Regions from separate parts of the Homo sapiens genome. Here region 1 is linked to region 2. Evidence: fine-mapped expression QTL. A gene starts in region 2. The other region holds a variant in brackets. All regions are shown on one strand. Distances are between the middles of the regions. Region 1 overlaps CYP27A1 (cytochrome P450 family 27 subfamily A member 1). Region 2 holds the start of STK36 (serine/threonine kinase 36).

The links. PIP is the estimated chance that this variant, and not a neighbour inherited with it, causes the effect.
Region 1: its variant is the best candidate, but not a certain one, in a credible set for the expression of STK36 in whole blood (TOPMed, PIP 0.72).

Annotation. Positions count from the first base shown.
Region 1 is chr2:218,799,594-218,807,930 of GRCh38, forward strand. The region is part of intron 1 of CYP27A1 (cytochrome P450 family 27 subfamily A member 1); the gene reads left to right. Among named protein-coding and RNA genes, the nearest start is that of MIR9500, 19 kb to the right of the region's middle. The variant A/G (reference allele first, on the strand shown) is at 3,787.
Region 2 is chr2:218,668,305-218,676,641 of GRCh38, forward strand. STK36 (serine/threonine kinase 36) reads left to right here and starts at 3,782. Exons shown (of 27, transcript NM_015690.5): 1 at 3,782-3,911; 2 at 4,437-4,609; 3 at 5,321-5,461; 4 at 5,575-5,652; 5 at 7,039-7,169; 6 at 7,725-7,974. The coding sequence starts at 4,526. It overlaps RNF25 (ring finger protein 25), which reads right to left and starts at 3,698. Exons shown (of 10, transcript NM_022453.3): 1 at 3,626-3,698; 2 at 301-375; 3 at 1-37. The coding sequence starts at 3,666. RefSeq lists an enhancer at 3,603-3,702.

The DNA of each region.
Region 1 (8,337 bases), 130 kb after region 2:
TGACTTTGAGTCTATTTTTCCTTTCTCTCGGGTAACCTCACACCAACCTCCATAATCATGTGAGCCAATTCTGTAAAATAAATCTTTCCCTATATACATACATCCTATTGTTTCTTTTTTTTTTCTGGAGAATCCTTATTAATATATCCACAAAATTACATCAGTCCACTGTCCAATCTGAGAGTTTCTTCCAAATCCAGTTAAAGTAATTTTTTGACCATAACCATGGGTATTTCTCGGTGCCCCAATGACTTGTGCCCAGTGTCGGAAAAGGCTGAACAGGTTCGACAACTGTGGTTGCCATCAAGTCCCCAGCACACCTTGATCAGTGCATAAAGCCTCTGATCCTCCTTAGAGAAGGAGGGACTTGGGTTTCTGCCCTAGTCCTGTTCATCTTGACGGGGGTAAGATCTTGCCAAAACACAAGGAGACAGATGACTGCAATGCAAGTTGTGGGGTACCTCCATTGCTGAGAAACTCCTGCTAGACCGCAGCCAAGGGGTTTTATGTTCTGCGACTCTTTTCTGAGGGAGAATAAGGCAGAAAGTCCATATCTCAGAACCTGAGAGGTGATGAGAAGCTGTCTTGGGACACCTCTGAGGAAGATGGGGAGGCCAGTGAAGAGTGGGAGGGGCCTCCCATTCTTCGGTGTTCCAGGAGGATCACAGGGCAATCAGTCTTCAAGGCTCAGGGAAGGCTGAGTCCAAGCCTTTGTTTATATGGAAGGTCTTAACGGTGCTATGGCAAAGTAACGCAGCCTGGTAGAAGAAATAAAGATAAGACACTCCAAGTCAGCCAGTGTTATTTTGTGTGGTGGCTCACAAAAAAATAAAAATAAATAAACAAATAAATAAAAACACATGACCATGAGACAAGCACTTTCTTTTCCTATAAAAATTACCTTTAAAAAAATCACATAAATATGAGTTACGATTACATGCTAATTTTGTGGCTATATACCACATTTAATAGAAAATGCCATTTAGAATTGAAATAACTTGCAGAAGTAGTGTATGCATATTTTAGAGAAATGAGAAAATATAAAGAAACAAAAAGAAGAAAATCTAAATCTTCCATAATCCCAACACCCATCACATAGCACAATGCCTTATACCCATAGGTTCTTAATAAGCGCTTGTGAAATGAATACATAAATACACCCATATGTTGTTATAAGCATATGGGGAAAGCATTATCTGTTTTCCCCATATGTCATCTACATATATATGTTTTTTAAAATAAAAGCATACCATATGCTCTCTTTTGTAACTTGCCATTTTACAGAAAAGTAAATATGAATATCTTTTTCAATAAACACACTTATATAACAATTTTTAATGGCTGAAAAGCATTTCATTGGATGGCTACATCAGAATTTACTGGACCCTGTTGGTATACTTTTAGATTTTTTATGTATAAAGCTTTGATTAACATTAATCTATCTAGCACTAAATGTTTGTGTACATTCTCAATTATTTTCTTAGAATAAAACTCCTAAAATGGAACCATTGTGATAAAGGATTTTGTTCGGATCTTTGATATGTAGCACCTGCCAAATTGTCTTCCAGAAAAGTTACAAAGAAAATAGTTTTGCATGACAAAGGGCAGTCCAAAAAACAAAAACAGGGCCACATGTGGTGGCTCACGTTGTTTGTAATATCAGCACTTTGGGAGGCCGAGGTGAGTGGATCACGTGAGGTCAGGAGTTCGAGACCAGCCTGGCCAACATGGTGAAACCCTGTCTCTATTAAAATACAAAAAAATTAGCCAGGCATGATGGTGCACACCTGTAATCCCAGCTACTCAGGAGGCTGAGGCAGGAGAATCGCTTCAACCTGGGAAGTGGAGGTTGCAGTGAGCTGACATGGTGCCACTGCACTCCAGCCTGAGCAACAGAGTGAGACTCCATCTCAAAAAAAACCCAAAAAACAAAAACAATTATTTTTTGCAAATAAGTACATGCAGAATATATATCACAAAGACATACCATTTTCAACTATGATATTTGCAAAAACAGTCTCTGCAAATATCATAGTTGAAAGTGGTATATCTTCATGATATATATTCTGCATGTTCTTATTTGTAAGATTGGACCTATTTTCTGCATAGATATACTATTTATATTTCTTTTTTTGTAAATTCCCTATTTCTGTTTTTATGTCTATTTTTCTAACGAGTTTTTGAATTGTGTATTCATACATATTTTCTTCTTGTATTTTTGTAGTTTCTTTTAAAATCTTTATCCCACCTGGGATTAGTTTCTGTGTATGGTGTGAGGTGCACAAGGCAGGTGCCTGACCAAGGGGTCACATGAGGAGCAGGAATGGAGCCTGCATTTGACTTGCCAGGCCCTGGGCTTTGGCTGGGGCTGCAGCTGCTAGCAGGCTTTTTTTTTTTTTTTTAATTCCTATTTAAGGCACTCTTTAGGCCAGCAATGACCACGGATGTGGGTTCTAACTATACTTTCTCCCCAAATAATCAACTAGTTGCTTTAATGACATTTGTTCACTTATTTGTTTCCTCTTATTTAAGACTAGGCTAAGAACAATCGGAATTAGTTTAGCCCGTGCGGCCTAGCCCTAGCCAATAGGGGAACGACACAGCAGCAGGGGCCACGTGCGTCACGGATAAGAACCCCTTCCCCTCCCTTGTCCAAGTGTGCGCTCACCATTGCTCCATCTGTAAGGGTGCACCCTCCATAGAAGTAACTTGCCTTGCTGAGAATTAAAAAGAAAATTAAAAAAAAAAAAGACTAGGTTAAGATGTGAAGAAACAGAACTACTTGCGTTGTTACTCCATGCTTTTTCCATCTGCTAATTATTTATTTACTTCCTATAAGGTCTTTACTATTTCTTGCTCATTCAAAGAGCTTTGATTCTCAGGATGCATGAGTTTGTGCTGCTTTTTGGAACGTTGTTCTAGCAGCTTGTCAAAAGTGAGGAAGCACTCACATTTCTGTTTACTCTTCCAGAAGGCTGCTTACTACGAGTTTGTTGCTGGAAGAAAAATAGTACTCCATTTCCTGTAGAAAAGAGAGACAGCCGATGTTTTCTTCGGAGGGCAAATAAATAAGAATAAACCCAGCCTCTGCTCCCTTATCTAGGATCTAGGAACTGATACTGTTATTTTCTTTTTTTCTCTCTTTTTAAGCCATTCTAGTGGTTAACAGTGGCTTTGGTTTGCATTTCCTTAATGACAAATGATGTTGAACATCTTTTCTTGTGGTTAACAGTGGCTTTGGTTTGCATTTCCTTAATGACAAATGATGTTGAACATCTTTTCTTGTGATTATAGGCCATTTGCATATCTTCATTGGAGAAATGTCTATTCAAGTTCTTTGCTTATTTAATTAATTAATTTATTTATTTTGAGGCAGAGTCTCATTCTGTCACTCAGGCTGGAGTGCAGTGGTTTGATCTCGGCTCACCGCAACCTCTGCCTCTTGGGTTAAAGTGATTCTCATGCCTCAGCCTCCCAAGTAGCTGGGACTACAAGTGTGCGCCATCACGCCTGGCTAATTTTTGTATTTTTAGTAGAGACAGGGTTTTGCCATATTGGCCAGGCTGGTCTTGAATTGCTGGTCTCAAACTCCTGGACTCGAGTGATCTGCCTGCCTTGGCCTCCCAAAGTGCTGGTATAATGGGCGTGAACCACCACGCCCAGCCATTCTTTGCTTATTTTTAAACTGAATTTGTCTTTTTGTTGTTGGGTTGTAACAGTTCTTTGTATACTCTGGATATTAAACCCTTATCAGATATATGATTTACAAATATTTTCTCTCGTTCT[A/G]TAAGCTGTCTTTTCACATTCTTGATAATGTCCTTCGAGGCACAAAAGTTTTAAATTTCTTTTTTGAGACCGAGTCTCGTTCTATTGCCAGGCTGGAGTGCAGTAGTGCGATCTTGGCACTGCAACCTCTGCCTCCCAGGTTCAAGCAATTCTTCTGCTTCAGCCTCCCAGGTAGCTGGGACTACAGGCACACGCCACCACACCCAGCTAATTTTTGTATTTTTAATAGAGAAGAGGTTTTGCCATGTTGGCCAGGATGGTCTCGATCTCTTGACATCGTGATCTGTCCACTTCGGCCTCTCAAAGTGCTGGGATTACAGGTGTGAGCCACCGTGCCCCCGTCTTTTTTTTTTTTTTTTTTTTTTTTTTTTAGATGGGAGTTTTACTCTGTTGCTCAGGCTGGAGCGTATTGGTGCAATCTCAGCTCACTGCAGCCTCCACCTCCCGGGTTCAAGTGATTCTCCTGCCTCAGCCTCCCGAGTAGCTGGGACTACAAGCATGCGCCACCACACCTGCCTAATTTTTGTATTTTTAGTAGAGATGGGGTTTCACCATGTTGGCCAGGCTAGTCTTGAATTCCTGACCTCAGGTAATCTGCCCACCTCGGCCTCCCAAAGTGCTGGGATTACAGGTGTGAGCCACCATGCCTGGCCAAAAGTTTTTAATTTTTATGAAGAACTATTTATCTATTTAAAAAAAATTCCTCATGCATTTGTTATCAAATCTAAGAATTCATTGACATATCCAGGGTCATGAAGACTTACCCTTATATTTTATTCAGAGTTTTATAGTTTTAGCTCTTCTTTTTAGATTGTTGATCCATTTTGAATTAATTTTTGTATATGGAGTGAGGTAGGGGTCCAGCTTCATTCTTTTGCATTTAGTTATCCAGTGGTCCCAGTACCATTTGTTGAAGAGACTTTCTTTCCCCATTGAATGGTCTGTGCACCCTTGTCAAAAATCAGTTGACTGTAGATGTTCTAGTGTATTTCTGAATTCTCAGTTGTATTCCATTGGTCTATATGTCTACACTTACACTAGTAACTTACTGTTTTGATTACTGTAGCTTTGCAGTAAGTTTTGAAATCAGAAAATGGGAATGTTCCAACATTGTTTTCTTTTTTAATATTGTTTTGGCTATTTAGGGCCCCTTGCAGTTCCATATTAATTTTAGGATCAGGTTTTCCATTTCTGCAAAAAGGCTATGGAATTTTGAAAGGGAATGCATTGAATTTGTAGTTTGCCTTGGGGAGTACTGCTGTTTTAACAATATTAAGTCTCCTAATCCATGAACATGGATGACTTTCCACTTATTTAGGTCTTTAATTTCCTTCAGCAGTGTCTAGTAGTTTTCAGTGTTCAAATGTTTCACCTCCTTGGTTAAAAGTATTCCTAGGTATTTTATCTTTTGGATACTATCATTAGTCTGTTTGGGCTGCCATAACAAAATACCACAGACTGGATGGCTTAAACAACAAATTTATTTTCTCACAGTTCTGTAGGCTAGAAGTGAGAGATCAGGGTGCCAGTGGTTGGTTTCTGATGAGGGCTGTCTTCCTGGCTTGTAGTTGGCTGCCTTCTTCCTGTGCCCTAGAGGGCAAGCTCTCTGGTGTCTCCTATTATGAAGACACTAATTCTATCAGATCAGGGCCCCACCCTTATGACCCCATTTAACCTTAGTTACTTCCTTAGAGGCCCCATCAACAAATGCAGCAACACGGGGTTTAGGGTTTCAACATAAGAATTTGAGGGGAGTGCAGACATTCAGTCCAAAACAGAGGTTATTGTAAATGGAATTATTTTCTTAATTTCCTTTCAGATTGTTCTTCCAGGTTCTTAAAACTCTAGACGAGCTACTGTTAACAAGTTTCCTACGTATCCTCTTCCCCACCCCCTTTCTATGTCTGTCTCTGTCTCTCTCATGTTCTTTGCATTGTCTGCAACATGTTTCTTTCTGCTGGATTCATTGACAACTGTTAAGTATGTACTGAGTGTCTTATTAATGTGCTTAGCAGTGTGCCCAACAATTTGGGATGTCATAAAGAAGTATGACATGGTTTTCACCCATGAGGATTTTCAATTTAGTTGAAGAGACAAGACATCCGCAAAATAATTAGAAAACTGTTTAGGAACATATGTAATCAAATTCTCAACTGTCTGGCCCATGCACTAGGATAAGAACTCCTTAAGAATGGTCTTTTATGCTGTGCTTACTGCTGTATCCCTAGGAGGAACAGGACATGAGATTCATAAATGAATGTTGAATGAATTCAACATTCTCCTGCTTTGGAGTTTTGTCAGGTGGGGGCTAACCCTCCCATTCATCCTGAAAGATGATCTTTGTTCTGCAAAGTGGCTCTTAGACAGGACCCATCCGAGAATGCTGGGACTTTCCAACTGGCTCAGGTTACGATCTAATGGTAGGATCACAGACACAGCACGCATCTCTCAGCAAGTATCCTGCTGTCTTTCTAAAATAACTTCTTACATAAGTAGATCCTTGTTAAGTTCCACTAAGTAAACTAACTGAGGAGCATGAAGGAAGAAGGCATGGCTTAGCTAAAAGGAGAAATGTCCCAGAAACCTCCATACTGACAGCCAGGAAGTAGTCTCAGAGGCTTTGGATTCCAGGAAAGAAGCTGGTATTGTTTTTCTACTTTAAAAATATAACTTTTTTTCTGCTGATTCCAAGAACGTGGCAAAAAATTTTTGAAAAATAAATCACAGTATAGAGAAGAAAGTAAGTTAATTTGTAAAGCACTGTTTACCACCATTGAGATAACTGCTGTTCAGATTTTTATTAAAATGTTATACATAAGTTTACTTCAACTTAACAGAAGGATAAGAAACCAAACTTTAGAAAAATATTTCTTCAAAATGGTATATATTTGTTTTAAACAGGTCTTCTAAAATTAAAGAATTAGGAGACATATTAAGAGGCTGGACTTATTGCAGTAGTTCTCAATCTATGGTGATTTCATCCCCCAGGGGACATTTTGGAAATGTCTAGAGACATCTGTGGTAGCCACAACTCAGAGGGGGTGCGGTACTTGTGGGGAGAGGCCAGGAATGCTGCTAGGCACCCGGCAACGCACACCACTGTCGGCTACAACATAGAATTATCCACTCCGAGTATTAACAGTGCCACAGTTGAGTAATCCTGGGTTGTTATTGCATAATATTGTGGTTTTAAAATAGTACACGCTTTTCAAGGGCCTACGTTTGTTTCCAGTTAGAAGGACATAGTTGTTTTCTCAGGGATCCGTGGAGTAAGTGGTTCAGAGCATGGCCTCCAGCCAGGTGTTTGGAGTTTGAATCCTGACTCTGCTACTTAATGATAAAGTGACCTTGAGCAACTTCTTTGGGCCTCAGTTTCCTCATCGGCAAAATTGTGGTAATATTAAACCTACCCCAAACAGCTGTAGTGAGGATTGAATGAGCTAATATAAGTAAAATTCTTGGAACAGTGTCTGGTTCATGGTCAGCTCTATGGAAACACGTGCAATTATTATTGTTAATGTCTTAAACTGGAAACAAATTAAGCCTACTTTTAGGACAGGTCTCCTAGGGAATTTTTTTTTTTTTTTTTTTTTTTGAGATGGAGTCTCACATTGCCACCCAGGCTGGAGTGCAGTGGCATGATCTTGGCTCACTGTAACCTCCTCCTCCTCCCGGGTTCAAGCGATTCTCCTGCCTCAGCCTCCCAAGTAGCTGGGATTACAGGCGCCCACCAACATGCCCAGCTAATTTTTTGTATTTTTAGTAGAGACGGCGTTTCACCATGTTGGCCAGGTTGGTCTCGAACTCTTGACCTTGTGATTTGCCCACCTCAGCCTCCCAAAGTGCTGGGATTACAGGCGTGAGCCACTGTGCCCGGCCCTCCTAGGGAATTTAATAGAGGAAAATAGATGTGTATGTAAAGTATTTTTTAAAAAGCAACCTTTAAGGAAAAAAACAAAACTCACTCACAGGAAAATGATATGGCTGGGGCACTTATAAATCTAAGGAGTATTTACAGGAATTCAGAGGCTCAGCAAGGATTCCCTGCCTTCTAGAACTATCTGGTCAATGTCAGGTGACTTACTGTTTCAGAAAACATTTCTTTTTGTACCTTTAGACTTTAAAAATTTGAATAGGTAATACATTATCATAGTTCAAGACTCAAACAATAGAACATGATACACACTAAGCAGTCTGACCCCCTCCGCTGCTCCCCTGACCCTCCCATAGTAATCACTTTATATTTATTTATTTAGAGACAGAGTCTCACTCTGTCATCTAGGCTGGAGTGCAGTGGGTACAGTCATGGCTCAATGCAGCTTTGACTTCAAGCAATTCTCCCACCTCAGCCTCCGAGTAGCTGGAATCACAGGCGCACACTGCCATGCCCAGCGAATTTTTTTTTTTTTTTGTAGAGGCAGGGTTTTGCCATGTTGCCAAGGCTGATCTCAAACTCCTTAGCTCAAGTGATCCTCCAGCCTTGGCCTCCCAAAGTGCTGGGATTATAGGGGTGAGTCACCATGCCCGGTCCAGTAATCACTTTCACTAGTT
Region 2 (8,337 bases):
AGGATGCAAAGTGATGTAGATCTCCCATGGTGAAGTTCTGCAGGTGGATCAAGTGGACACGCAGATGTGACTGGGTAGGGGCTTGGGGGCTGGGGAGGATGGGGCTGAGACAGTGAAGTGGGCAAAGGAAGTACACATTGGACTCTTTCTTTTGGGGTAGGATTAAAGGAATAGCTTTTGTCTACACAAGAGAAATATTATCTCTGAATCAAGGCTCACAATGTCTTAAGACCCAAATTCAGCATAGAACCTCTCCTCATTACTAGGGGGACTCCTGCCCACCACTGGTTGAATACATACCTGCCATTTCCTTTAATCACCTGTAGTTCATCTAGATAGATGGACTCCAATACTTCAACTTCAGAGGGAAGGACCCTAGAGAGACAGGAGTAGACTAACTTACCATTACAGCTCTCCCTGTGGAAGCCTGCTAAGGCCAATAAAGGCAGGCTTTGTAGAAAAATGGCAATCTACCAGAATGCATTCTCCTGCTAAACTCCTTAAAAACAAGGAATATGTTACCTTAAGTTGTCAACTGGCCAAATAGAAGGCATGGAAATCAGAATTTTAGGCATCATTTCTGCCAACAGATGAAGAAGTGGATTCTAGAGAAGTAAAATGACTAACCAAGGCTTAACATAGGTAGAACTAGGCCCAGAGCCAGGTTTCCTGACTCCCTGTTTAAGTTTCATTCCCCTTAGTGGCTGAATCTCTGGTCTAGAGATATGGCACTCATTCATTAGCATTAACGTTACCAATATTACTCCAACCTTTCCCTACGTCACTGTCCAGTGTGGATCCCAGTGCCTTGGCTACTGTCTACATACAGTTTTAACACCAGTCACCCTAAGCCTTCTTAAAGGAGATAGCAACCTCAACACAACATATTTAGGGTGGTATAAAGGCTGTGTTGTAATGGAAGAGCCAGCAGCCTCGGAGTTAGTTAACAGGTACCAATCACTTACAAGCTATGCAATCTGGGACGTGACCTCTCTGTAAGCTTAAGTTATCCTGTCTGTCACATATAGATAATAACACCTACTCTCTAGGGTTATTGTGAGGATAAAAGGTGATTTGTTTACATAAAGTACCTAATAGTATCTGGGCTATCGTAGCTAGTCTACGTCCTCTTTTTTTCCTGTCTGTATATAACCTTCTCCCTTAGAAGGAAAGAGGGAAGGAAGGAGGTAATAGAGTACTCTGGATGTATTTATGACCTGGCTGTCTGGTTGATCTAGATCAGCCTGTTGAGGTTAGGATCCATGGTTCTGATGTAAATCAAGGGACACACATACTTAAGCATAGAAACAGCAGTTGTAATGAAATTGAAGCTGAGTGATCAGTTTGTGTCTACAGCTCTACCAAGTGATACATGGAAAAATGCACACTTTGCTTTCTCACACTGCTCCCTCTTCATTCTAAGAGTAAGGCTGCCCCAGCACGACCTATGTCAGTGTTGTTAAGTCTTAGGCAGAAACTTCAAAATATAAAATATAAAGCTTCACACCTCACAGATAACAGTGTAGTTCTGGCTGACATGGGAGTGGGAGTCTCACAGTACTACAGGCTGCTGCACTCATTGTTGCTGTCTCCATGGCTCAAGGTGTCTCCCCTGAATCTTAAAAGTTCCCCTGAACAGGTAAACTGTAAGTTATCCCAGCGCTTTGGGAGGCTGAGGTGGGAGGATCACTTGAGGCCAGGAGTTCGAGACCAGCCTGGGCAACAAAGCGAGACACTATCTCTACAAAAAATAAAAAATTAACTGGACACGGTGGTCCCAGCTACTTGGGAGACTGAGGCAGAAGAATCACGGGAGCCCAGGAGGTCGAGGCTGTAGTGAGCCATGATCTTGCCACTGTACTCCAGCCTGGGTGACAAAGTAAGACTCTGTCTCTTAAAAAAAAAAAAAAAAAAGAAGTTTCCCTGAACACTTTGAAAACCAGTAGTCTAGATACTCTTAATAACGGCCAGTACTAGCTGGGCTCCCTGAACCAATGTAACATTGAGGTGTAGCCTCAGTCAAGTGGCCCTTCAATACTTCGCCCACCCTAGTTATATGGGTCCTGGATGGGATGGTGGTAAGGTGGTGACAACAAAATGGGGGAGGGGGGCCGGGCGCGGTGGCTCAGGCCTGTAATCCCAGCACTTTGGGAGGCTGAGGCGGGTGGATCATGAAGTCAGGAGATAGAGACCATCCTGGCTAACAGGGTGAAACCCCGTCTCTACTAAAAATCACAAAAAATTAGCTGGGTGTGGTGGCGGGCGCCTGTAGTCCCAGCTACTCGGGAGGCTGAGGCAGGAGAATGGCATGAACCCGGGAGGCGGAGCTTGCAGTGAACCGAGATTGCGCCACTGCACTCCAGCCTGGGCGACAGAGCAAGACTCCGTCTCAAAAAAAAAAAAAAAAAAAAAAAAAATTGGGGGAGTGGGGACTGAAGAATGTCCTAGTACAAAGAATCTAAGGTGTGGAGTCAGACAGATATGGATTTCTATTCATAATTTTCTATCTTTTGGCAAATCACTTTACTTCTTTGGGACTCATCTAGTCTTCCCAGGTGCCTGCACCTCAGTTATTAATGAAAAGGAGGCCGGGTGTGGTGGCTCACGCCTGTAATTCCAGCACCTTGGGAGGCTGAGGTGGGAGGATCACTTGAACCCAGGGGTTCAAGACCAGTCTGGCCAACATGGCAAAACTCCGTCTCTACAAAAAATACAAAAATTAGCCAGGCATGGTGGCACACACCTGTAGTCTCAGCTACTCGGAAGGCTGAGGCAGAAGGATCACCTGAGCCTGGGGAGGTCGAGGCTGCAGTGAGCCGTAATCGCACCACCGCACTCCAGCGTGGGCGAGAGTGAGACTCTGTCTCAAAAAACAAAACAAAACAAAACAAAAAACAGACTTAAGTATATTACAAATCCGTCGTGATCCTCTCAACTATTCTGAGGTAAATGCCACACCCACTTTTTTTTTTTACAGCTGAGGACACTGACTCACAGAAGCTAGATGGCCTGTTCAGCATCACACAGCTAATAAAATGTGGAGTTAACCCACATTGATCCTACTTCCAAATCCCAGAGTCCTTCCATGTTCTAGTCTTTGGTTAAGAATGCTTGAGAGAAGGACTAGAGGGACTTTATATGAAGTGTAAAGCTTTATTCATACAATAGTCCTCACTAGTGCTGTGTGAGAGAGAGAAGGCTGAGGAAAGCGTCGGCGGAAAAAGGCTGATCCAAGGGGAAAGGGGGCCGGAACTGGAGGGCACTGGTTCTGAGAGGAGAAAGGGAGATGGGGAGGTCTGATGGGCAGGCATCCCCCAAAGCCCCTGAGAAAATTCATTTGAGGAGGAGAGAAAGGGATGGCGTGAAGCTGGAGGAAAAGGGATCGAACCGGATGCGGCGAGGCCTGAACTGGCCTGGCGGGCGCCGACCCGTTCTCCTCTCACTCAGATCAGCGCCCCTCCACCCTCCCGTTCCCCAGTCCAGCTTTCCCAGAGATGTCAGCATCTCTGCCATCCCTCATCCCTCGCTCCACCCCACACGCCCGCCGTACGGACCGTCTGCGACAGCTGCTAGGCCTCTGGACTAGATCCAGGCTGTCAGCCAAAGCCCATGCCCCCAAAGTTACCAGTCCTCCTCCCCTGCAGCTGCAGACGCAGACGCCGCCATATCTTCACCGGCCCGCAGCCGGAACCGGAAATGCCCTTAGGGAAGTCGGAGGCGGAAAACTAAGAGGGGTGGGCAGCTAGCGTCGTTTCTAGGCAACCGCAGACTCCGGGTCCTTAGCCGGGCCTGATGGCCCTGAGGCAGTTCGGATGTGTCCCAGGAAGTGCCCATGTGTGGTCCGCCGTCCATTCCACACCTCTGAGCGCCTTTGTCCTCTGAACTTCTCACCAGTTCTAGCGAGTAAAATTGTAAGAAAGGGAGCCGAAAGAGACCGGAGGGAGAGGCGGGTGGAGAAGAATTATAAGTCAGGCAACGTATGCAGGCAGCCAGAAGAGATGGGGCTAAACGCCAGGGAATCCGTCCCTTGGCCTGAGGAGCTTGGAGCTCCTAGGCTGGGGGTGAGAGAGGGGCTCTGGCCTGCGAAGCGCACGGGCCAGGGGGTCTGAGAGCGGGTGCTGAGGAGTCTGGGAGTGGCAGGAACTTGGGGGAGACTCAAAGGAGCAGGGTTGGTTGGGCGAGGCTAGGTTGAAAGAGTAGGGTCGAGTGAGCCAGGCTGGGTGAGGGAGAAGGGGAACCAGGTGTTAGTTGGGCATGGGGCCGGGTTGGGGACAGGAGGATGAAAGTGGGGAGGAACTACAAAGAGAAGCTCTGTTTGTTCCAAGAGCGCATCATCTTTGCATGCATTCCACCCTCCCATGTTTTTTGAGGCTTTATTGTGAAAAAGAGGAAAAGGCAAGGTGGCTAACATTTTTCCTTTCCCGTGCCCCAACTAGGCGTCCCAGATGTTGTGGAACTGTCCCTGGATCTATAGCTCTTCACCGTCTCTACTTTCTTCCTTCTAAGAGATCCTGAAACCTCTGTCATGGAAAAGTACCACGTGTTGGAGATGATTGGAGAAGGCTCTTTTGGGAGGGTGTACAAGGGTCGAAGAAAATACAGTGCTCAGGTGTTGCACAAAGAGGGATACCTTTTGGGTGGGATTTGGTACCCCCAACTCCAGTGGAAAATGGATCTAGAAGGAATGTATTTATACCAGTTTGTATTCCTAAGGTACTGACTCCCTCATACTTCTTATGGAGTATAAGCTTTGAAGTTGGATTATTTGGGTGCAAATTCCATCTCCACCGCTTTCTAGCCCTAGAATTATGGACAAATTACTTAACTTCCCTATGTCTCAATTTCCTTATCTCTAGAATGGGGATAAGAACAGCAACTGATTGATGGAGTTTGAGGATTAAATATGTTTTCACATTAAATCACTTAGTACAGTGCCTGGCTGTTAGTAAACAACAAATATTATTAGTCTCTAGCACACCATGTAATAAGAGGTAAACCACTTGAACTCTATTATTTCCTCTTCATTTTTTTTTTCCTTTCCTTTCTCCTAAATCTCATCTTGAGTGCTGGTCAAATCAGAACACTTCTTCCAGAAGGGGAAATGTTTTGCAGATGCTGTTTCCTCCTGGGATGAGGAATGGGGAAAGCCTGGATAAGGCCAGGGTACCATGGAGAAAATGGAAGCGGGAGACTAACAGAAATAATAAGAGTTACTCAAACACTCTAAAATCTGACTTCTGGAGCTCTGAGATTAAGGCTGAAATTCTAGATCTTTTCAGTAGTGTGATTAGGCGTTAACTTTTCACCTTACCACTGACAGGTCGTGGCCCTGAAGTTCATCCCAAAATTGGGGCGCTCAGAGAAGGAGCTGAGGAATTTGCAACGAGAGATTGAAATAATGCGGGGTCTGCGGCATCCCAACATTGTGCATATGCTTGACAGCTTTGAAACTGATAAAGAGGTGTGCTTTGACAGTTTTGGGCCCTGTCTCCCCAAGCACAAGGGTTCCAGGAATTTCCCAACCTCAGAATGCATGAATCTGGAGCCATCAGTGCCACTGCCTTCTCTCTGTAGGTGGTGGTGGTGACAGACTATGCTGAGGGAGAGCTCTTTCAGATCCTAGAAGATGACGGAAAACTTCCTGAAGACCAGGTATGCTTTCTGCCTTCAACTTCTCCCCACCTCCGACCTCTCTCCAGGTTAGAGAACTGGTAGAGCAAGCTAAGGACACTGAGAGTCTCCATTTCAAAGACTTCTGAGAAGAATATAAGAGTCTAGGTATATAGAGGCAGTGTAGTGTGGGAGTAAATTATGTAAACGTTGGAGTCAAAATATCTGAGCAGGAAGCTTGGCTCTGCTCCTTCCTAGCTGGGTCTCATTGGACAAGTTACTTTAATTTCTTTGTGCTTAGTTTCCTAATTTGTAAAATGGAGATAATAATCATGTTTGCCTGATAAGTCTATGATGAAGAGTGTTAAGTCATGTAATGTGTTTGAATAGTTAGCTATTATTAACATTATTGTTATTAGATACCTTTAGGGAAGAAGGGCCAGTGTAATGGTACCAGAAAGAGGGCAGTAAGAATAAAGGTTGTGGGGAGTCAGGATTTGGCACCAGGACGTAGTGGTTAGCAGTGGGATTTTGTTGCACATATCCTCCAGCCACATTTATTCTAGGCGTTTGTCTGTACCCAAGCAAGTAGGCCCCCCCTGGGATTCATTATTGCAGCATTCTCTTTCCTTCTGAGCACTCACCACTATTTGTAAGTAATCATATTTTTGAAATTATTTTATTTTTAATTGAATTTTATTTTTTGAGACAGAGTCTCGCTTTGTTGCCCAGGCTGGAGTGCAGTGGCACAATCTTGGCTCACAGCAAACTCCGCCTTCCAGGTTCAAGCAATTCTCGTGCCTCAGCCTCCCCAGTAACCAGGATTATAGCATGCGCCACCATGCCTAGCTAATTTTGTACTTTTAGTAGAGATGGGGTTTCACCATGCTGGCCAGGCTGGTCTCGAACTGCTGGCCTCAGGTGATCTGCCCGCCTCAGCCTCCCAAAGTGCTGGTATTACAGGTGTGAGCCACCACGCCCGACCACCATATTTGTTTTATCTGTCTTGTTTGTTTGTCTGACTACTTTTCTTGAAAAAAGGCATTTTGTCTTATTTAATAACAGGTAATGTGTATTGAATATTTACTATGTGCCAGGCACCATTCTGAGTATTATTTTGCATGCTTTAACTCAGTCCTCACAATAATCCTCCATGTAGATGGTGTTATTATATAGATTGTCACCTTAGTTTGCCCATGGTCAAGCAGATAGTAAATGAGATTCAATAAATTTTTCTTGAATGAATGAATGAGCAAATGAAAGAGTGATTAAACAAGGGGAACAATAACTAAGAAAGAATAGTGTGAAGCTCTGCAAGAAAGGGAAGGAAGAAAAGATTAGCAGTAATATTAAGAGAAATTTTTGGGCTTGTCAGCCAGCTGCTGTTTCTAACCTTTTTTTTCTTTCTTCCACCTCTTTAATTTCTAGGTTCAGGCCATTGCTGCCCAGTTGGTGTCAGCCCTGTACTATCTGCATTCCCACCGCATCCTACACCGAGATATGAAGCCTCAGAACATCCTCCTCGCCAAGGGTGGTGGCATCAAGCTCTGTGACTTTGGGTAAAGATTCTGAGCATCCATCTAAGCTTCCAGTTCCACACGGAATCTTTTTTTTTTTTTTTTTTTTTGAGATGGAGTTTCACTCTTGTTACCCAGGCTGAAGTGCAATGGTGCGATCTCCACTCACCACAACCTCTGCCTCCCGGATTCAAGCAATTCTACTGCCTCAGCCTCCAGAGTAGCTGGGATTACAGGCATGTGCCACCATGCCTGGCTAATTTTATATTTTTAGTAGAGATGGGGTTTCTCCATGTTGGTCAGGCTGGTCTCGAACTCCTGACCTCAGGTGATCTGCCCACCTCGGCCTCCCAAAGTGCTGGGATTACAGGCATGAGCCACTGAGCCTGGCCCCACAGGGAATCTTAGACCATACTCTTGACTTATTTGGGCCTCATTTTAGAACCGGAGCTAGAGGCTGGGACTGCTGCTGGGTCTTCTGGAACCTAATCAAAGGTGCTCCCTCTGCTCCGGTTTGGGATATCTCTATGTTAGGTAGTAGTGACCAGGTTTAGAATATCTTTTCCCTTTCCATTTCCATCCCATTATCTTCTGCAGATTTGCCCGGGCTATGAGCACCAATACAATGGTGCTGACATCCATCAAAGGCACACCACTCTATATGTCTCCAGAGCTGGTGGAGGAGCGACCATACGACCACACAGCGGACCTCTGGTCTGTTGGCTGCATACTATATGAACTGGCAGTAGGCACCCCTCCCTTCTATGCTACAAGCATCTTTCAGCTGGTCAGCCTCATTCTCAAGGACCCTGTGCGCTGGCCCTCAACCATCAGTCCCTGCTTTAAGGTAATGAATATTGAAAGGGAGATGACTTTTACATTAGAAATCTGTCTCCCTCTATCTCTGTTCCTTTTTCCAAATCCTTTTCCAGAGCTGAGGCGGGACTTTGCAGTTACTGAATTAATGGCTGTGTTATTCTGTTCTCGCATTGCTATACAGAACCACCTGAGACTGGGTATTTTATAAAGAAAAGAGGTTTAATTGGCTCACAGCTCCATAGCCTGTACAGGAAGGATGGCTGGGGAAGCCTCAGGAAACTTACAATCATGACGGAAAGCAAAGGGGAAACAGGCATGTCTTACGTGGTGGACCAGGAGGAAGATAGAGAAAGGAAAGGTGCTACACGCTTTTTTTTTTTTTTTGAGACAC